3 linked regions of the Homo sapiens genome follow. The protein of the gene in region 1 purifies or fractionates together with the protein of each later gene. This does not show direct contact. Each region holds a gene or a part of one and is shown in the gene's direction. Other genes may lie near its edges.

Region 1 (7,572 bases):
ACAGAATTGCTTAGGATCCCTAACCAATACCCAAACGAATCCCCAGCACCCACCCACCCCCACATTATTATGGGCTCCAGATGAAGACCGAAACCGCGAGCACTAATTGAATTAGTCTATTGAAAAAGACTGTCAGGTACAATGACGTGACTCGAGGCCCCACATTTCCCAAGGTCCATAGGCTTTGGGGACCTGCGATGTATAGTCTGACCTTGTAGCTCATAATAACGCGGCACTTGTAGCAGAAATCTCCTCGCATTCACTCCCAACAAAACCGCTGGTCATCCAGTCCCCGTAGGAAGGCTGCACGCTATTGTGTTGCGACAACTCATTCATGTCCCGCACCACGAGGCCCCACCGCCATCTGATCTACACTCGAAATGCGATTACCACCCTGTGCATGCAACATGCTCCTACTCCCAGCCCATGGCGCACACCCCTCGCCAGGCTGCAAGAATTTCTTTCGTAATTCTCCTTCTGGTCCTCATCCTCGAAAGAGAGGTGGAAACAAGCAGGACCCTGGCATTTGTCTTTGCTTACACAAAATCCAAAATTCTATGGACACACAGGCTGGTCTTCTTTTCTGAACAGCATACACCAAAACCCTCAGCAAATACATTTCTTCATGCCTGACTAGTGGGGCTGACTTGGGTGTACACATTAACATTCACATACATACAGGGGCCTCCTGCCACACACAACTACACACACACACACACACACACACACACACACACACAATACTTTTATAGACTAATTTTCTCTCTGGGTGGCTCTCACATACCAAGCAAATAAACACAAATATACACTCTGTTCCCCACAGCCACGGGCCACTCTTCAAGACCGCTGAGCGTTTTTCCCAAAATTAGAAAAGGAGAGAAAGAAAGGTAAAATTTCTCAGCCTTCACTCTGATAAACACATGCCAGTCTTCCGACTATATGATCCCCAAACTCCCCTAGCTAGCAGCTCCTCAAACAAGTATGCATCATTCTCCTCTGTTTGGCCAGGTGCCTTTTGCTCACTGGGAGCCCCTGCCTATCCTCAGAAAATGCAGGAAGTCCAAGGACTGGAGAAGGGAAGGACGGTTGGGGTCTCTCTCTGTCCTATTTACCCAACTCCCGATCACTGAAGGCCTCGTTGGGACCTCCTTCCTTCAAGTGAAAAAATGTAGCACCCCTCCCCCAACTTTGGCATTTGAGACAAAATAGAATCTTTATCTTTCTTGTCGTTCTCCACTTTTATCTGGGCTATCCCCAAGAAAAGGGTACTTGGGGACAATCAACTTATTGCAGAGACGCAGCCCAGTCCATGGCCTTCTGTGCGCCTCTAGCTCAGGTGACTGCATAGCTCAGAACTACAAGGCCATAGAAATACGCACTGGGTACCCCCACACTTCCCTACCTTCGGCCCAAGAGCAGATGGCATTTGGAGAAAGGGGCTCTATTCCATTTGAGTCAGGCTTCCCCACCTGCTACCTGCAGGCCCACCTCTCTGCCACCCCGGCCTGGGCATCTATCAAGTTGAAAGTAATTCCTTAGCTCCCAAAGGCAGAAACGAGTACCCCCAAAAGGACCGCCACACAAATATACCCACTCGTGCATATACAATCCTTTACACACACCCTAACCCTTTACTCACATACTTGTACACACAACTCACCCTGCCCGTAGTTCCTCACTCACACGCCCAATCCTGGGCTCACTCAGAGTCCTGTGAAACCCTCACCCATCCCTCTCGGCCAACATTTGTTCACTCAGCCCTCACACACTTCACTCGCATGCTTGACAAGACGCCAATGCGCTCACACAGAGTTCCCAATGGCATGTTCATTTGCAGGAGGGAGAAGAGGGCGTAGGGTCTGGGTGGAGGTCATGGAGCGCAGAGCGGCGCGGGGTACCGAGCGTCCGGCCCAGGCCGGGCCTCGGGGAGGTGGGGGGACGAGCCAGCGCGCAGAGTGCCGCCTAATCCAGCTCGAGCTCGTGGGCCGCGGGTGCATTTATCATCCCATTACTGTAACAAATCCGGGCTCCACTACATGAAAGGTAAAATGAATTACCGACGTTAAGCCGTCAATAAAGTCATTTCTGTAAATGGTGTCTCCAAAGGGCCGCCGTATTATTCAGCTGGCTTTATCAGCTGGCTGGAAATTACGTGGAGGAGCCGGGCCGCGCGGCGCGCGGGGCCGCTCACTTTGATTAAGCGTCTTGCCAGCGCGATGTGACAGAGCTTTTGACCAGGGTTTTATTCACAGGCCTGTGATGAACGCCAAGCTGATCAGGCGGAATGAAGAGTAATTAAAACCTATAAATTATCTTCCGCAGCCCTTCTCGAGGCGTCTCCTGCAGGCGAGATAAGGCGTCGAGACCCTATTTACCGCGCTGAAAGGGACCGCGGCGCACAAAAGCTACGCAGCTAAATAGGATATTGATAGTGTCCTAATTAGAATTTAATTAAGTACCCACGCTTGCTTGCGGGATAAAGATTTCAATTTTGCGAACTTAAATATAAATAAAATCCCACCCCCATTTCGGGGAGAAGGGGTGGGGGCGCCTGGAGATTTCGGGGAGCCCTTGGGTGTGCTACTGAAGAGGACTCGGGAGACTCCAAGGTGGGGTTGGAGGCGGCTTGGGAAGGTAGAGAAGACTGCAGCGCAGCGTTAGGGAGAGAGGTTTTCTCCCCTAGGCTGCAGCGCAAGTCTAGCCGGGAACTCAGCCCCGGAAATCGGGGGACCCTCGCCTGCTCCCAAGATGCGGTGAGCAATATAAATTCCTGCTCTCCACCAGCCCTTTTGAGAAACTTCAGCTACTGTGGTGGTGGTTCGGCTTGTTGTGGGTTTAGTTGCATGTTCCTCCTAGCCTAACCCTCTGTGACTTTTCTGGAAAACTGGAGGTAGGGGGATTCTTTCGCATGTCACAAATAGACAATATTTCCAAAGGGATCCTTTCTCTACTGTCCCAGTTGCGGAGGGCGTTCAGGGCGAGGAGGTCCGCTGGAGCTCTAAGATGACACCCCCGAAGGCCTCGTTTGCTGACGCCTTTCTCGGCCACCGCAGGCTTCAGCATAGTCGGATACTGGTCCTCCAAAACGAATCCGGAGACAAGTCCCGCAGGTGCCTAGAGCTTCAGTCCACACGCCACCCCCGTCCCTCACATTCCCGGTTATGAGAAAATTTTGGGGGTGCCTCGACCAGGAAATAGCGAAAAAGAGATCGGCAGACGGGAGAATGATAGCAGCTGGAGGAACGGCATTTCCCTCAAACTAGGGAAGAACGCACAGAGCTGGAGCCGGAGGCACCCAGGGAGTTGGGAGCAATCCCAGGAAATTCAGTCACCCGGCAATTGAGGGAAACTCCCTGTTCACAACTTCAGCTAGCCAGGGCAAATACTTGGGGTGCAGCGCTTTCATTTATTTGATTTTACTTTGCAGGGAAATCTAACACAGAGGTTACCCTGAACTCTAAAAGCTAGGGCCTAGCGCGCATCCGCGTTCTGACTCGCCGGCCCCGGGGCCCTCCTGAGATTAATCTGCGTTGCCCGGACTCCCACTGCCAGGGAAGGTCCAGGCAACTGGCTCTGGGGCTATTCCTAGCCCTCTGGGCTTGGCTCTATGGCGCCAGGGCAGCTCCAGGGTGTTGTCGAAAGTCTGGACCGGGAAGGGCATGGGTGCGGATTCCCCACAAAGGGAAAGCAATGCAGCGGGCCGGCAGGAGACGTACAAACGTAAACGTGCGACGCTAGCTAGGCGCAGCGGGCCTTTCAGATTTTGCTATTTGTGAAAAACAAATTGCGCCTCTGAAAGTAACCAACTCTAGGTCTATTTCACATCACCGACCTCCCTGTCTCACTCCCCCTCCCTCCACTACACACACCCAAACCCACACCCACCCACAAACACACAAACCGGCAGTGACAACAACCACCCATCCTTCAATAACAGCAACCAGAGACAGAGGAGAAAATAAAAAGCTGAGTTTCTTAGGCGTGGGGGTGCAAAACAGCCAGGCTCCTGCCTACTGCCCCTGCTCCCGTAGCTCACAGACCCATAATCCTGCATTTCTCTAACAAGTTGTTTATGGAGTTGCTTCTCCATTTGCCTACATCCCAAAATTCACCCCTCCCGGGTTTCTTCTGCCCCCTCCTGAGTCCCGGCCTGAAGGAGGGGGAGGGACGCGGGTGCGGGCGCGGGTGGGGGAGGGCGGACCCGACGCACAGGGCCAGCGCCGAGGCGCCCCCTCTCCGCCAGCGGTTGACGCCCCCGGATTATTTATCCGCAAAGTCCCGCGCGCGCCCATTGGGCCGAGGCCCGAGTGTCAGCGCGAGTCCCGGCTCGCCATTGGCTCCGCACACGTGCGGCCCTGACTCACGTGCTTCCGGTTTGAAGGCAAAAAGTGTGCCTGGGTGATTTTTTTTTTAAGCGAGAGAGTTTGTGCAAAGATCCGAGCTGTCAGAGATTTGAAAAAAAAAAAAAAAAAAAAAAAAAAAAAAACAGCCCGGCGCTGGCGGAGACGCGCTCTCCCTGCAAAAAAAGCAAAGGCGATTAAAGGCGCTGCCAGCCTCACGCTCTGGGCACAGCTGAGCGTGACACTCGGGGAAGTCAAACCCCTCACTACTGCCTAGGAAGATGGCTAGACTTTAAATACTATTTTTTTCCCTTTAAGAAAAAAATTATTGGAGCTTTTTTTCTTGCTTTCTTTTTCCTTTTCTTTTTCTTTTTTTCCTTCATTTTTTTGGCCGTGGCTTACTCCCCATTTAAATCAAATCATTGAATCTGGTTGCAGAAAGAAAAAAGAAATAGCCAAGTGTCTCCATATCTGGATGTCTACAAATTAGAGAGGGAGAGACAGCGAGATCTATCTGCTAGATAAGAACGAGCGATCCAGGCCAGACGCCTGAGCTTTTTTCCTGCACCCGCCCCGTGCCTTCGCTGAGGCTTCGCCTGCCTCCTTCCTCCGCGCACCCCCACGGGCCGCTGGCAAAGTGGGGTGGGGAGCGAGGCGGTGGGGGCGGGGGCCGGCGCGGCGGCCGGGGCGGCGGGGCGGCCGAGCATGGAAGAACAGCAGCCGGAACCTAAAAGTCAGCGCGACTCGGCCCTCGGCGCGGCGGCGGCGGCGACTCCGGGCGGCCTCAGCCTGAGCCTCAGTCCGGGCGCCAGCGGCAGCAGCGGCAGCGGCAGCGATGGAGACAGCGTGCCGGTGTCCCCGCAGCCTGCGCCCCCCTCGCCGCCCGCGGCGCCTTGCCTGCCGCCCCTGGCCCACCACCCGCACCTCCCCCCACACCCCCCGCCCCCGCCGCCTCAGCATCTCGCGGCGCCTGCTCACCAGCCGCAGCCAGCGGCCCAGCTGCACCGCACCACCAACTTTTTCATCGACAACATCCTGAGGCCGGACTTCGGCTGCAAAAAGGAGCAGCCGCCACCGCAGCTTCTGGTGGCTGCGGCGGCCAGAGGAGGCGCAGGAGGAGGAGGCCGGGTCGAGCGTGACAGAGGCCAGACTGCCGCAGGTAGAGACCCTGTCCACCCGTTGGGCACCCGGGCGCCAGGCGCTGCCTCGCTCCTGTGCGCCCCGGACGCGAACTGTGGCCCACCCGACGGCTCCCAGCCAGCCGCCGCCGGCGCGGGCGCGTCTAAAGCTGGGAACCCGGCTGCGGCGGCGGCGGCGGCCGCGGCGGCAGTGGCGGCGGCGGCGGCGGCCGCAGCAGCCAAGCCCTCGGACACCGGTGGCGGCGGCAGTGGAGGCGGCGCGGGGAGCCCCGGAGCGCAGGGCACCAAATACCCGGAGCACGGCAACCCGGCTATCCTACTTATGGGCTCAGCCAACGGCGGGCCCGTGGTCAAAACTGACTCGCAGCAGCCTCTCGTATGGCCCGCCTGGGTGTACTGCACACGTTATTCGGATCGTCCATCCTCCGGTGAGTACCCAACTCCGGGCTGCGCCATGCCTTCTGGCCCCGCGGACCGCCCCAGAACGCCAAGCTGCGGCGCTAGGGAGAGCAAACCCGGCCTCGGGTACTCCAGTCTCTCACGCCTGCTTCCTCACCCCAGTTCCAGTCACAACCGAATGTTCATCCAGCTATGCGATCCTGGCCTCTGCGGCCACCACCCGAGAAGCTACAGCTCGTGGCACAGGAGGCTCGGGTCTCGATTCTTTGATTTTGAACTCTGAATCCCTGGGGCCTTCTTTGTCTCTTATCTTTATTATTCTTAGGAAAAGTACATAGTCAGTGATTTTCTTTCCAGGGTGTTTAGATAAGGCAGGAAGGTGGGCCTAGTGATGTGTGTCTGAAATCCCACCAGCCTGATCGTCCGAAGGCCAGATTTGACCAGAGAAGGCCTTGTTCAGAAAAATTATATTCACTGTGTGTCCTTACAGACACAAACACCATCTCGATATTTTCTGCGGAGAGACCGTTTACATTGATAAACATGGGAAACACAGGAAGACAGGGAGGAAAGCGTCTGAAAGCCGTCCCTCTCCCCCGGCTGGGTAGCGAAAAGAGTCTGACCCGGGTGGGTAGAAACCAGGGAAAGGCAGTTGCCAAAAAGGTGGGTGCTGGCAGCCCCTGGTTTTCTGGAGCTGAAAAACAGTGGGAGAGGAGAGAAAACAGGTCAGGCTCAGGCCAGGAAGCGTGTCCAAGGGCATGAGAGCCAGTTTCCTCCGTAGCTTCTCCGCGGAACGGTTCCCGCATCCTCCCCGCGCGGCGCTTTCCTTTTTTCACCCGCACATCCAGCAGACTTCTGGCATCCGTAGGCCTGTTTTTCTCGGCTTTCCTTCCACCACTTTTCCGTGTGCCCCTCGCGCTTGGCGAACCCGAGGAGGAGACCTGAGCTGGGCTCCGGGAGAGAAGGCCAAGGCCTGCCTGACGCCCCGGCCCGCAGTGTCTGGGAGAGCGGCAGAAGCTTTGGCCCAAGATCAGCACTCCAGACACCCGGTCCGGCAGGGGGCCGGGAACAACGTAGCCACGCGCCGCTTTCCTCTGGCTGGTCTCTCGCCGCCCCACAGCTGCCGGCCGGGCGCGGATCGATGCGCACTATCAGCTCCCGCCATCTCGAGCCCCGTTATTGACACGTCGGGCTCCCTGAACCTCCGAAAAGCTGCTTTGATTGACTCGCCTGATGGATAGAGTGATTGAGCTGTCAGGCTGCACGGCTCGGGCTGGCCGGGAGACTAGGAACGATTTTATTACAAGAGTCCGTGCCTCTGCACACACATACAACAACACTTCAACATGTCCCGGATGCAGAACGGGCAGTGGGGCCTTTTTGGGGCTGTGTGCATTTCTTGGGCTATTTCTCCCCGCTCAGCTAATTACGAATCAAAACCCCAGTTCTGCTCTGGAGAGGGCCTTGGCTTTGTTCTTGGCCACTTTCCTTCTTATGGGCCTGGGTAGGTAGGGGACCAGCTCCTTCTCCTGCTTGGGCAGTTGGGGGAGGAGGGGATGAGCCTCGACCCAGATCTGAGTCGCTGCAGTATGCTAGGCCTGGACTCTTTGTCATAGGACAGCTGGTTACCCCAGCCTCCTGCCTGCCCCAGGAGTAGGCTGCCCAGCCTTCCTCTCTGTAGCTAGGTTTGGAGA
Region 2 (7,105 bases), on another chromosome or scaffold:
ACAGAGGGAAGGGGAGGATATGGTGCAGGGCCTCAGCGGTCTTGCACCCAGCCCTCTTCAGCCACATGGCTGCTGTGTGGCTTTGGACACATTGAGCACCCAAAGGACACTCAGCTGTGTTTCTGTGAGAGGAGGCAAGTTACTATCCCACACAGATGGGTGGGAATGACCAGGTGAGAGCAGCACACTGACTGTGAAGGATGGTGGATGTAAAACCAGCTGGGAAGAAGGTTCTGGCTTCAGAGAGAAGCAGAAGGGCAGGCTGTGGGGGCAGGGGCTTAGAACTGCTATGATGGAGCGGGTGTCAGTGCGGCTGCCCAGTGGGTACAGGAGTGGAGTAACCCGGGGCCTGGGCTAGGGGACAGCCTCACGGGGAGACCGTGTTGAGCTGGAGTGGAGCCTGTTGAAGGGCAGGGCTGGAGTAGAAAGCATGGACTTTGGGGTTTGGCCTGGCTTCAGGTCCTGGCCAGTAGAAGGACAGGGTGGTTTGGGCTCAGTCAGGGGTGGGGAAAGTGTGGCCTCTTACTGACCAGTTGGCTTCTCTCTTGGTTGCAGGACAGTGATGGAGACAAGAGTGATGATCTGGTGGTGGATGTTTCCAATGAGGTATGGGCAGGCCCGGTCGCAAGGGGGCTCTTGGTTTGGCATGGTTTGGAATTATTCCTCCCCAGGGTGGGATCTATTCTGTCTGTTCTAGTATTACTGGCAGCCTGAGCAGGGAGACAAGGCCTCCAGTCTTGGGGTCTCAGGGGGTCAAGAGGAGCAGGGCAGGGCTTTGCTGCATGGTGTCTGGGCATTTATGGGCCTGGAGGGCCTCCTGCAATGGGTCTCCAGAGAGACACCCCCAAAGATCCCAGGTAGGGGCCATCTTCTATTCCCCGTGATCCTCCGTCCCCCCAGGGTCTCAGCCTCAGGGGCCTGAGGAGGAGCTGGAGAGCATCTACATTTGGCCAAACCCAGCCATGCTGATTGAAGTCCTGAACTTGTGTTTGACATTGGGAAGACCATCCTTCCACCCTCCCTAGGCCTCAGTCAGACCAGATGGTTAAGAGCTAGTTTTTCCTCACTGTGGGGCCCCCAGTCTTTCAGCCAAGCTCGTCTTCCCATCGCCCATGCCCTCTCTCTTCCCACTCCCAGAGCAGGGAAGCCTCGAGGCTGGCTGTTGCTTTCAGTGCATCTCTGCATCACTTGTGTTTTCAGGACCCCGCAACGCCCCGGGTCAGCCCGGCACACTCCCCTCCTGAAAATGGGCTGGACAAGGCCCGTAGCCTGAAAAAAGATGCCCCCACCAGCCCTGCCTCGGTGGCCTCTTCCAGTAGCACACCTTCCTCCAAGACCAAAGACCTTGGTCATGTATGTGGGGTCTGGGTGGAAGGGAGTGGGAAGGGAGCGGCAGGGACTGGAGCTGGGGTGGTGCCGATTGGCAGGCAGAGGGGTGGAGTGGGAGAAGCTGGGTGGGTGATTGGCCCCGGTTTACCTTCTGTGCCTGCTGGGCCTGTGCTAATGAGTTAACGTTTCTGAGCCTCGGTTGCTACGTCTGTAAAATGGGAGTGATCACCCCAGTCCCTGCCAAACAAGGTTGGGCAAGGATTGAGAGGCTGTTCGGCAGAAGCTTCATAAGGGTCTGGCTCTGGGCTTCACGTTGGGACCGGCACCAGTTGTGCCCGGCTCCTAGGAGAATGGAAGCCTCATGGCCTCCCTTGTTCTGCATCTCCCCTCTTCAGAACGACAAATCCTCCACCCCTGGGCTCAAGTCCAACACACCAACCCCAAGGAACGACGCCCCAACTCCAGGCACCAGCACGACCCCAGGGCTCAGGTCGATGCCGGGTAAACCTCCGGGCATGGACCCGATAGGTATAATGGGTAGGCACCATGGGCTGGGTTAATCTGATTGGGGGGAGGGGGTCTGCTCTTGGCCAGGGCAGGGGTGACACACACGCATGGGATAGAGCACAGGCAGTGTCTCCCAGGGCCTGCCCCTGGGGACTTCACGGTCAGATTTGAGGAGGTGACACCAGGGTTTCTGGGACCCCTGCTGGGCCAGACATGAAAGCAGCATCAGACGGGTCAGGGCTCCCAAAATCTGTTCCCACCCCTGTCATTAGTCCAGTGAGGCTCTAAGCAAGCCCATTTGGGCCTCCATATCCTGCTCTGTAAAAAGAGGTGGGTGCATCTGCCAAGCTCTAAGCTTCTTTGGCTCTGAAGGCAGGGATCCCACTTGGGTGGGTTCAGTCTGAGAGGACTGCCTGGAGCAGGCAGCTTAAGAATGCAGGGAGGGTTATTGCTGGGTGAGGCGGCCATGGCCATGTCCCAATCCACCTAAGGCCCACCTCCCTGACGCCCACCCCTCGCAGCCTCGGCTCTGCGCACGCCCATCTCCATCACCAGCTCCTATGCGGCGCCCTTCGCCATGATGAGCCACCATGAGATGAACGGCTCCCTCACCAGTCCTGGCGCCTACGCCGGCCTCCACAACATCCCACCCCAGATGAGCGCCGCCGCCGCTGCTGCAGCCGCTGCCTATGGCCGATCGCCAATGGTGAGCTTTGGAGCTGTACGTAGACCTTTTGGCTCCTTTCTTGGGGACTGGGCGTGGTGTGGGGAGCCAGTGGTTGGACGGGTGCTCCCCACATGCTAAAGGGGCCCCTCAGGGTCTCAAGGCCAGGCAGCTGCCCCTGTGGGAAGGTGTATCGGAAACAATTGAGACTTGGCTGGAAGGGTACACTCTTTGGGGCCAGCAGACCTGAGTTCCATCCCCCACTGGCCTGTGAGCCGCCCTGTGACCTCATGCAAGGCAGCCTCCCTTTTAGTCTGCAAAACGGGGCTGACACCTGGCTTTCCCAGCTCTGGGGGGTAGGAATCCCAGGGCAAGTCAGGTGATGTCCATGGAGCAGGGGTCTCGTAGATGGGACTGGTTGTACAAGACTTTCTATTGTGGTGAATAAATAATAAGAGTTAGGGGTCGAGCGCAGTGGCTCACGCCTGTAATCCCAGCACTTTGGGAGGCCAAGGCGGGTGGATCACCTGGGGTCAGGAAATCGAGACCAGCCTGGCCAGCCAACGTGGTGAAACCTCATCTCTACTAAAAATACAAAAATTAGCCGGGCGTGGTGGCAGGCGCTATTCGGGAGGTGAAGGCAGGAGACTCACTTGAACCTGGGAGGCAGAGGTTGCAGTGAGCCAAGATTGCACCACCGCGCTCCAGCTTGGGCGGCAGAGCGAGACTCCATCTCAAAAAAATAAAAATAAAAAGAAGAGTTAGGGTTGGCGGGGAGAGGGGCCCTTTTTCAGGAGACAGTTTTCCTTTTTACCTCCTGGACCTGGGGTGGCCTCCTCTCCACTGGCAGGCCCACTAGGACCACAGGAGAGGAAAGAAGTAGGGCAGGGCCAGCTCTGCCTTGCAGAACAGGGAGGATGCTGGTTCACAGTGGGGTCTGCACTGTCACCCCTTCCCTGCCACGGGCTGTCCTGGGCCTGTGTCTCCTCTGAATCAATGGGCTCTGCTCTGCTCAGCTTGTCTCTTGGGTTACAAAGTGGCAGAGCCGTGCAGGTAGGACCCCGGGTGGGTGGTGGAGGAGGCAGGGGTGGGGGTGTGTGGCAGCACGGCTGATGGAGGGCTGTCTTGCCTTGCTTTACAGGTTGGTTTTGACCCTCACCCCCCGATGCGGGCCACAGGCCTCCCCTCAAGCCTGGCCTCCATTCCTGGAGGAAAACCGTAAGCTTTGGCTATACTTACTGCATGCTTTGTAGGGTGGGCAGGAGAGAGCACTCTACCCCCAATTCCAACAACGCCCCTCATCCCCTGACCAAGGGTTTGCCCTGGTGCACCTCCCTTTGGAAAGGTATCTGTCCCTCTAGAGGCACCGAGGGCTGGTTGCAACCCCAGGAAACTGTAGCCAAGCCACACTTCTGAGCACCCACAGAAGCTCCCTCCGACAGAGGAGCCATGGAGTTAGCTAAGTACATGGCCACTGGGCTGGGAGAGAAGGAACACTCCTCACCGAGTCACCTGGAGCTGTGGTGGGCCTTGCCGACTCCTTTGGGTTCGACCTGCTGGGAAGGCCCCAGTGCCGCTGGTCGCAGGCCCTTCCCTGTCAGCAGTGCTTCCCTCCCCTGGAGGGCACACTCTCCCCGGCCCTTCACTTCCTTGGGTTGCTAGGAAACTAAAAGATTGAGCCTACAGATAATGCCGAGACACTGCCTGACACAGTCCTCTAATTGTCAACGAGAATCTAGATGCTGATTGAGAGGGCACCCACCAGAGCCTGAAACAGCAGGCAGGCCAGGCTGGCTCACCACAGGCTCTGACATGGACTTTCCCATTTGCTATTGCAGGGGCAAGCAGATCCCTTCCCTAATACCACCGGCTCCTAAAGCAAGAGGTGGCATTTCAGCCAGGCCCTTTCCAGGGTTGGCATGTTGGGGGAATGTATGGATCGTGGGAAAGGGCATTCCAGGACACCTGTGGGTTTCTGGTCTGATTTGAAGCAAGGATATATAACTGGGTGTAAAAATCAAAGCTGGTCTGTTAATCATGTCTACCTCGATGGAGCCATCCCAGTACATGGGGTTACTGGGTTCGAATGGTTTCAGAGCAGAGGGGGCTAGAGGCAGGGCAGCCAGTCGGGGGCAGTGCAGATGACCTGGGCCAGGCCTATGGGAACTCTGAGGGGCCGGGGTGGATGGCAGCAGTGACGGTTTCTCACCTTTTCAGAGCGTACTCATTCCATGTGAGTGCTGATGGGCAGATGCAGCCCGTGCCCTTCCCCCACGACGCCCTGGCAGGCCCCGGCATCCCGAGGCACGCCCGGCAGATCAACACACTCAGCCACGGGGAGGTGGTGTGTGCCGTGACCATCAGCAACCCCACGAGGCACGTCTACACAGGTGGCAAGGGCTGCGTGAAGATCTGGGACATCAGCCAGCCAGGCAGCAAGAGCCCCATCTCCCAGCTGGACTGCCTGGTGAGAATCCCAGGGCTGCTGCGCCGCCTCCAGCTGGTGTAGGAGGATGGGGCAGCCTGGGCCACAGGGGAGAGCCCCAGGGCCTGGCTCAGCATCGTATTGGCTGAGCAACTTTAGGCAAGCTGACTAACCTCTCTGAGCCTCAGTTGTGCCTTCTGTGTGTGGGGCTGATTCTGACCTCCTGGTATTCATGAAAGATCAAAGGGTTGTGAATTTGAGGAATGGGGACAGCCTGGCAGCTGCTGGGTATAGGGGGAGGCTGTAAGCAGGACTGGTGAGGGTGCTCGGTGTTGCTGGACAGGACTCTCCTGGTGCCCAGGAGGGGAAGTAGGCAGCACTCAGCCCTGCCCCTTCTCCCTCCAGAACAGGGACAATTACATCCGCTCCTGCAAGCTGCTCCCTGATGGGCGCACGCTCATCGTGGGCGGCGAGGCCAGCACGCTCACCATCTGGGACCTGGCCTCGCCCACGCCCCGCATCAAGGCCGAGCTGACGTCCTCGGCTCCCGCCTGTTATGCCCTGGCCATTAGCCCTGACGCCAAAGTCTGCTTCTCCTGCTGCAGCGATGGGAACATTGCTGTCTGGGACCTGCACAACCAGACCCTGGTCAGGTGAGCCGGCAGGAGGGAGCATTAGTGCCTCGTCCTGGGGAAGTTTTTACCCATCCTGCCTGGTCTTGTTTGCTGTGACCTTGGCCCTGTCTGAGGCACTGTGGGGTGGCCAGAACCGTTGGGATGAGGGATGCACAGGTGAAAAGACAGCTCCGCCTGCCTTATGCGAGGGACAGAGGAGGGAGGGCCATTGGGCCCAGGAGTTGGAGAGGGCTCTGGGAAGAAAGTGGAGCTGGAGCATGTCTGGGGAAGTGGAGGTCAGATTAGTGGAGCAAGCAGAGAGTCTGGGAGCAGAGCCCCAGAGACCAGATTAGGGAGACCCGACTGGGAAGCCACATCACGTGGTAGCTAAACAAGCCTCAGGACAAAACTGCTGGCTTTGAATCCTGCCTCCACTATGACCTAGTGCAAGTCGCTGAACCCCTGCGGCTCAGTTTCTTCCTGTGTAAAACAGTGACAGTGGAGCATCTTCCTCTGACTGTGCCGCAGCGCAAAGGCAGACGGGTGCCTGGCCCAGCTGACTCTTGTATACATGGGCTGTGTGTGTTATTCAGCGTGTTCATGGATGGCCTCAGCCCCATAGTTCATGCAGGATGAAGAGATAGATTAAGAGGGCAAATTGAGGGCGTGTGGAGTGCGAGTTAAGGAGCTGTGTCCTAAAGGCAGTGGGGCCCTGCATTCTCTTTATCAGTCATCTCACACGTAGCTTCCCCAGGGCCTTCCTGCCTTCCTCACCTTCCTGAGCCTCCAGCTCCACCTCCTCCAGAGGCCCACCCTGGAGGGACTCAGTCTCAGAAGGCTAGTGCAAGGTCCCTTTTTCACCTCCCCCCCCCATTTCCCAGGGGACTTGTCCCTGGGCAAACCCTTCCGTGGAACTGGAAAGAGGCCTGGAACTGGAAAGAGGCCGGGGCTAGCTTTGCTGCAAGCTCGCTAAGGGACCATGCGCATAGTGCACTCTTCTGGGCCTCAGTTTTCTCTTCTGCTCAGACTGCCCCTGGGATGGCCGCCACCTGGCAGTCTGTGGTTCCCGGGACTCACCCTCCTCCCTGCTTGGCTTTCGTAGGCAGTTCCAGGGCCACACAGATGGGGCCAGCTGCATAGACATCTCCCATGATGGCACCAAACTGTGGACAGGGGGCCTGGACAACACGGTGCGCTCCTGGGACCTGCGGGAGGGCCGACAGCTACAGCAGCATGACTTCACTTCCCAGGTGTGCGGCCCAAGACTCCTCCCTTCCCAAAGAGCAGTGTGTTCCCTCCCTCCGGGGCCCCAGTGGCTGGGTCAGGGACAAAGGGACCCTCACAGAGTGGCCACGGCCAAGAGACTTGGGACCAACCTGAGCCATCTGGGAAGGCTTCCTGGAGGAAGCAGCAGTGAAACAGATGGAGATGACCTTGGGGTTGGACACATTTGGCCCAACTGTGGAAATTCGATTCATTCTCTGCTGCTATTGAGCACTTTGTCCTCGGCGTCCTCATTCACAAGATGGAAATAATAGTAGCACCCTCCTAGGTCTGATGTGGGCA
Region 3 (7,105 bases), on another chromosome or scaffold:
TTCAGTTTATGTCTTCCCAAATATTAGGTCTGCTGTCTCAAGGAACTCTTTTGTTTCTTTGTTAACTTTTCTATTAAAGAAAATCAAGGCCCAAGCTGAAGAACCTCTTCCATTTCTTTTCCTCCTTTCCTTTTCTTTACCTTTTTACTGTTTAACGTCATTGTTAAAACCATGTTCTAATTGCTGGTATATGTCATTTCATCTTGTTAGAATGAAAAATCTACTACTCCCGTCTCAAAGTCCAATACCCCTACTCCACGAACTGATGCGCCCACCCCAGGCAGTAACTCTACTCCCGGATTGAGGCCTGTACCTGGAAAACCACCAGGAGTTGACCCTTTGGGTTAGTAAGAAAAAAGTTTTTTCTATATTTTTATGCTCGTTTTTAAGAATTTAAAGCAATTTAAGGAGTACAGTACATTAAAAGTGCTAATGACCAGCATTGAATGGCTGTTAGACAAAGTTACTTAACCTGAACCGAGCACCTGGGACCAACCTTGTCTGGCACATGGTAAGTGTTCAATAGAACAAAGTGAATGAGTGAATTCTGAAGGCTTGAATGACTTTTGAGAATATTAAAATAAGCTCATTTGAACCATAGATTCTATTTTGTGACATGTTTACAAATGTCTTCACTGTTGTTTCCTGTGTTCTTCATTTTTCTTCCATCCATTTTGGTTTGCAGCCTCAAGCCTAAGGACCCCAATGGCAGTACCTTGTCCATATCCAACTCCATTTGGGATTGTGCCCCATGCTGGAATGAACGGAGAGCTGACCAGCCCCGGAGCGGCCTACGCTGGGCTCCACAACATCTCCCCTCAGATGAGCGCAGCTGCTGCCGCCGCCGCTGCTGCTGCTGCCTATGGGAGATCACCAGTGGTGCGTTTGTGAGCTTCACAAATAATATTTTAGCACACGGAGGATTGTCATGCTTGATTGATTGCGACAGGGTCTCGCTCTGTCACCCAGCCTGGAGTGCAGTGGCATGATCTTGGCTCACTGCAGCCTCTGCCTCCTGGGCTTAAGCGATCCTCCCACCTCAGCCTCTCAAGTAGCTCGAAAAAACAGCATGCGCCACCATGCCCAGCTAATTTTTAAAATTTTCTGTAGAGGCAGGGTTTCACCATGTTGCCCAGTCTGGTCTCGAACTCCTGGCCTCATATGATCTGCCTGCCACAGCCTCCCAAATTGCTAGGATTACAAGCATGAGTCACCATGCCTGGCCTATCTATTTTTTAATGTAATTTATATAATCTAAGGTATTTAGAGATCTGTGGGTATTTATAAGTTAAGCTACATGTGATTATAATCTTGAGGTCCATTTTCTTTTGTAAGGTGAAGAAGTTTCTTTTTTATTTTATATGTCTTTTTAAAAGAATACTAATTTTAAATTTTCCAAAATGATACTAATTTTGGAAACTTCAAACCTACAGAATTAGATCACATAGTATAATGAATGTAATGACTCTTTGGTTCTACCATGAGCTTCAATAATCATTAGTATAATTTTTTAATCTGTGTTCCACCCCCAAGTATGTTACCATTAAATCCTAAACATTGGTTATCATTTCACCAATAAATACTTCTGTATATATCTCTAAAACCTTATTTTTAAAGGATCTATTCTCCCAGGTTTTAGAATAGATTTTGAGAAGGATAAAACAAGTCAAATGTAACTGTGCTTATTTCTGTTGTTTGCTTGGGAAAAATTCTAGGTGGGATTTGATCCACACCATCACATGCGTGTGCCAGCAATACCTCCAAACCTGACAGGCATTCCAGGAGGAAAACCGTGAGTACCTTTTTGCCTCTGTGCTCATTGTGTGTCAAACTCAGGTCCCTTGCTGGCCCCGTAGACTTAGAATACCACTAGACAGTGTTGGGGGAGTTCCCATGACTTGTATTTTTTTACCTTGCAAGGTATTTTTCATTTTCTCTTAGCACAAGAAGAGAAGTAATGAAGTGGGGTTTTGCATTGTAAAATTTTGAGCTTTAATATGTAAATGCAAATTGCAGAGGCATCTCCAGTAGTCAGGTCTTCTCTACATCTGTTGCAGATTTCAAGGCAATTCTTTGTTCCAAAAGTCTGATTATTATGTGCAAACCTGAATGTTCAAAATTTGAATATGTTGGGAAAAGACATGCCAAACCTCAAAGGCTGAAAGGAAATAAGGGCACTCTTATGCTTAGTTCTGTTTTCAGAAAAGGTGACTTGCTTAGTTGGCTTCTTATACCGTGCTCTGGGCATCTGGAGCCTCTGTATTCACAGATTCCTTGAGTTAGGAAAGACAAAACACAACACACCAGTTGTTCTAGCCTTCTCTGAACGGATCTCATTCCAAATACTTTATTTTAATCTAATGCACCTTTTTATTACTACCTAATCACAGTTGTCTCTGCTAATTGGCTTCATCTTCCCAGAAACAAAGATTTTACTATAAAGTAGCACTGGCTGTTTCTTTAAAATCCCAGCTGGCTGCTTTCTCTCGCTTCTCCTTTGGGAAGCCTCCCCCGCAGATCCTCCTTGCCTTGTTAGTCACCTGTGTGTGTGCATTTTTCTCATCACTCTTTCTGTGGGCATCCCCTCTGTCACTACACATGCCGTGTATGTGCTGCCTCCCCAGTCTCCAGGGCTATCCAGACCTGACCCTCAGTAGCAGCTCAAGGCGCCTTCTCCCAGAGGCTTCCCTGGTAGCTTGCCTGCCTTGAGGTATTTTGTCCTTACTGTCCTTCTTCCTGCAAAACTTTCTGTGGCTTAGTGTCTCATTTAGTTATCTAAGATGTCATTATGTCAGAGCGTTCTGCCCTGACAACCCTATTATCCCTCTTTCCCTTCCTCCCTATTCTTTCCTCTTCTACTACCTTTTTAATGCTTTTTTATAGCCATTATCTGCCTCTCCCTCTTGACTATAAGTTCCATGAAAACAGAACAGAACTTTCTGCTATTCAGTTATAGAAGCAGTCTCACTGCCTAGAATGGTACCTGGTTCATAGTGGTGCTCACGGTATGGATTTATTCAGGGAATGGATATGTGCTGATTTCTTTCTTCTCGGACCTCCCATTGCTTGTTTATTCACTCCCACACACTCGGGCACTTAGTTTTCACCCTGGTGTTAATTGCGTGCCCTCTTCTCCCCACATCCCTTCAGTGTTGCCTAACCTAGACCCTTTCTTTACTTTCCATCTGAGGAATCCAAATCTCAGTTCTTCCTTTTGTAGCATATTAATACTTCTCTACAGACTCTATCCTAACCTTCCTTTGTTGTATCAAGCACAGTGCTGGCTCCACAGCCAAGTTGCTTGGTAAATATTTGGCTGATTAATAGGGGAGAAAAGACAAATTAGAGTTCCTCAAGAGTTGAAGGTATAAATATCAATTACCATAAAATTCTGTGTACCTGTGTGTGTTTTGCAAATAGTTGTTGACTAACAAGTCTTATTGACCAAGAAACTTTGATGTATTTGAAGGTGAAAGTTGGGTCTATTTCAAGCAATGCTAAATAACAAGGTTATACAATTAATCAAATAATGACTCAGATACCTACAAGTTCCATATGAACTTGTGGGGAAAGTGGAAGGGTTCCTTTAGGGAAGAAGTACTATCCCTTTTTTTTGGTTACTTCTTAGGTAACCAACAGTTGTACCCAGAGCTACAGCATAACCACTAGAGCAAATGAGATGATGCTTCTTGCCTCAGCTGCTGCTTCGAGGGGCAAGGGGTGTAAGTGTCTTTAAGGAAACACCTTGGCTAAGGGATTTGGACCAGTTAAACCACTGTGGAATCACAGCTGCTCTGACTCAGATGGTGCTTCTGAGTCTTGGGCTGACTTCCCTTCATCAGTTTTAACTTTCGATGTTATAAAATGTTTAAATGTTTAAGATCCTTTAGGGTGGGTTAATGGATTGGAGGATTGTTGAGAATTTTTGTTTATGAGAGTGACAGAGTCACATCTACTGCAGTTGGCAAATGACACTTTACCAGGAAAATGACACTACTAAAAAGCATGTGGTGCAGTCAACAGAGTATGGTTTTGGGAGTGTGACAGATCCAAGTTTGAATTTAGACTCTGCCAGTTGAACCACTGAGAAGAGTGGCTTTATGCACAATTTCTTTGTGAGCTTCAATCAGCTCATTCATGAATCAGGGATGGCCCCTCCTCAACAAGAAGGATGTGAAGATAGGAAGTAAGATAATATGTTGTGTGTTCATTCAGTGCCACATTTGTTACATGGTGGCTGTTTAGTCAACCCCAGCATTATTTCCCTTTCAGCTTTGTCCCAGCATATTATTCATTTTTCAGCTACTTATGTAGTAGGAGGTACATTGTGTTTTAGGGGCAGAAGTGACCCAAGAAGATGGGTCATTGGTGTGTCTTTATGTAACAGAGCATGAAGACGTATAAAGTTACATTCACTTATATGCATACAGAGATAATATACTTTTATTATAGATTTTTACAGCAGAAATGAATATAACAGTTATGTGGCTCTCCAGATCATAAGATACTGAATTGTGCAATGTTGTCTTGTGCATATTTTTCAAGACAAAACTTTTTTAAGTGTGCTAGAAAATAAAATAAAAAATCACCTAAAGTCTTCCTCCACCATACATACCCACAATGTAACTACCTTTCTCCAGAAAGACTTATAAAAGTTATGTGTCTCTGTTCTAATTATTTCACACAATGAATTGCTAGATATGATCAGAAATTATAATTAAATGCATGTTCCAAATTAATAAAATGGTGTTTATTGTATAATTCACATTGAATCCTCTTGTCTGCTCAGGTGAATTAGCAGAGGTTCTACTTCATATGTAGTTGGAATAACAGCATAGTTTAATTTCAACATAAGCCAAAAATGGCCCTTCTCCTTCACCTGCTACTCAAATGAGACTTCTATGGCTAGTGTATAACTATTTGATTAACATCACGGTACTAATTGTATGAGATGTGACATGTGAACACAGCAAAAATAAAAGATCTCACGTTAGTGGATTATAGGCTGCTCACAATTCAGAAATCTGACTCTTTTGCATTGATTTATTTTTATAAAGCAAGATTTTCAAATGAGAATAATGCCTGATACATAGTAAAAACCTTCAACGAGTATTTGTTGGCTAACTCACTGGTCTGTATGCTACTTAGAACAGAATTTTCTATCGTATTTCAATGTAAAATACAATAACCAGACCTCTCATTGTGACCTCAAGGTCGAAGCCCATCTTGTGACACATTGGAAATGTGGAGAAGGTACTGTGCGCGTGAGAGATGAGCACAGCATAACAGAACTGGGCCTCAGAGAGGAGAATGAGGGGAAGGTGGGAAAGCCAGTGACCTTCTTTAAATATGCTGGGTCTTTGTCAAGATGATAATCCATATATAACAAGTTTGACACACATGTTTTTAAAAAAGCAAATTGCATGTGTCTGGATTGTTTAAAGTGTAGTTATGTCAGAGAGTCCAAGCCTAGCATTTTCTTCAACTGTCTCTTATTCTCATCGCCATGTTTGTTGGAGAGCCACTCTGCTCGTAGCAGCTTAACCTGTGGTGTGTGTGTTCGTGTTGAGAGGAGGTCAGGTCACTCTATTTCTCTGACTCCCTGCACCCTCTCCCTCCAGCCCTGTATTTCTAGTTATTTGTTGGGCATCTTAGCTAGGGATCTTGGGTGTATGTTACTTGCACCACAAATTCATTATATTCAGAAAGTACTTTTGTAAATTAGGTCCTCTTCCCAGTTTGCCCTTTTTTTGTTAACTACAAGTACCATGTTTCTTTTTTCCTGAGCTCAGAAACTCAGTTACTCTAGCTCCTCCTCAGATCTCGTCAATTTAGTCCTACAGGATTTTATATCCATTGTACCTTCTAACTTGTCATCCTTGCCCTTGCCTGGTTCAGGACCCCCAGTACCTCTTACTTAAATTGTTGGAATAATTGTTGTTGTTTGTTGTTGTTGTTGTTGTTGTTGTTGTTTGAGAGAGAGTCTCGGTCTGTCACCCACGCTGGAGTGTAGTGGCTCAATCTCAGCTCACTGCAACCTCTGCCTCCTGGGTTCAAATGATTCACATGCCTCGGCCTCCCAAGTAGCTGGGATTACAGGCACATGCGCCACCACACCTGGCTAATTTTTATGTATTTTTAGTAGACATGAGGTTTCACTGACTGGTCTCCGAACTCCTGACCTCAAGTGATCCATTCCCCTCGGCCTCCCAAAGTGCTGGGATTACAGGCCTGAGCTACCGCGCCCAACAGGAATAATTGTTTTTAATTCCTCCTGTCCATCCTACTCCTTGCTACCAAGTTTATTTTATGAATAGCTTTGCCCAGTAATGGCACACTCCCTTTATCCCTCAAAAATCTCTTCAGTCAATTCTGGGAAGGTCTCAGGCTGGCATTCTGGTCCTTCCCTTTTATAGCATTACATTGATTTTAATTATATAGAGATATAGATCTGGTATGTTTTTTCAGACTATGCTTGGCCAGTTCCTCCATCCACCTACTGTGTAGTTATTATTGAATGAATTCCTGGATTAAAACCAATTCAAGGATTTCCCAGCTCATTTTACCTCATCCTTTTGGAACTTTTGCTCTCTGCTATTCTTGCTATCTGGAATATTTTTTCCATCTTTCTCTTTACTCGATGGTATCTTTTCATTCTTTAAAAACCCATCTCTATTACCATGTCTGTCTCTCATCCAACATAAACTTTCTTTCCTTTTCAAAACACTTCAGAATACTTTCCATTAGAATGTGACCTGATATTGTCATTTCTGTACTTTTCTCTCATCATGCTAACTAGATTGTTAGTCACTTGTGGGCAAGACCAGGTGCATTACCTAGTTTTGTATCCTTAGCATGACGTTTGCGTCAGAGTATATGGATGGGAGGTACTTAACACATTGTGCATTAAATTAGTTAGAAACAGAGTAGCCCTTTGCGCCTCGGTTTCTCTGATTCCTAGCAATGTTGACTTCCCTCATACCTTCCAGGAGTATTTGCTAGTTACAGTCAAAGAGTTTATCGAAATCTGATAATAAGTATGTACTAGAGCTTTATTATTTCCAGTTCTGAGTGCCTTCTATGTATACTAATAGCAAACAGAGGG

The links.
Region 2: the proteins of EN1 (region 1) and TLE3 purify together in Homo sapiens (affinity purification with mass spectrometry; 2 studies listed by BioGRID and IntAct, with this or other methods). This does not show direct contact.
Region 3: the proteins of EN1 (region 1) and TLE4 purify together in Homo sapiens (affinity purification with mass spectrometry; 2 studies listed by BioGRID and IntAct, with this or other methods). This does not show direct contact.

What each region holds. Positions count from the first base shown.
Region 1 is NC_000002.12:118,844,641-118,852,212, reverse strand, and holds the start of EN1 (homeobox protein engrailed-1), read left to right. Parts: upstream 1-4,564; 5' UTR 4,565-5,045; coding exon 5,046-5,907; intron 5,908-7,572. UniProt on the Homo sapiens protein: Required for proper formation of the apical ectodermal ridge and correct dorsal-ventral patterning in the limb.
Region 2 is NC_000015.10:70,052,911-70,060,015, reverse strand, and holds part of TLE3 (transducin-like enhancer protein 3), read left to right. Parts: intron 1-555; coding exon 556-606; intron 607-1,200; coding exon 1,201-1,353; intron 1,354-1,724; coding exon 1,725-1,857; coding exon of another isoform or gene 1,858-1,866; intron 1,867-2,357; coding exon 2,358-2,557; intron 2,558-3,641; coding exon 3,642-3,718; intron 3,719-4,717; coding exon 4,718-4,967; intron 4,968-5,330; coding exon 5,331-5,578; intron 5,579-6,641; coding exon 6,642-6,789; intron 6,790-7,105. UniProt on the Homo sapiens protein: Transcriptional corepressor that binds to a number of transcription factors. Inhibits the transcriptional activation mediated by CTNNB1 and TCF family members in Wnt signaling.
Region 3 is NC_000009.12:79,707,908-79,715,012, forward strand, and holds part of TLE4 (transducin-like enhancer protein 4), read left to right. Parts: intron 1-210; coding exon 211-343; intron 344-685; coding exon 686-879; intron 880-1,715; coding exon 1,716-1,792; intron 1,793-7,105. UniProt on the Homo sapiens protein: Transcriptional corepressor that binds to a number of transcription factors. Inhibits the transcriptional activation mediated by PAX5, and by CTNNB1 and TCF family members in Wnt signaling.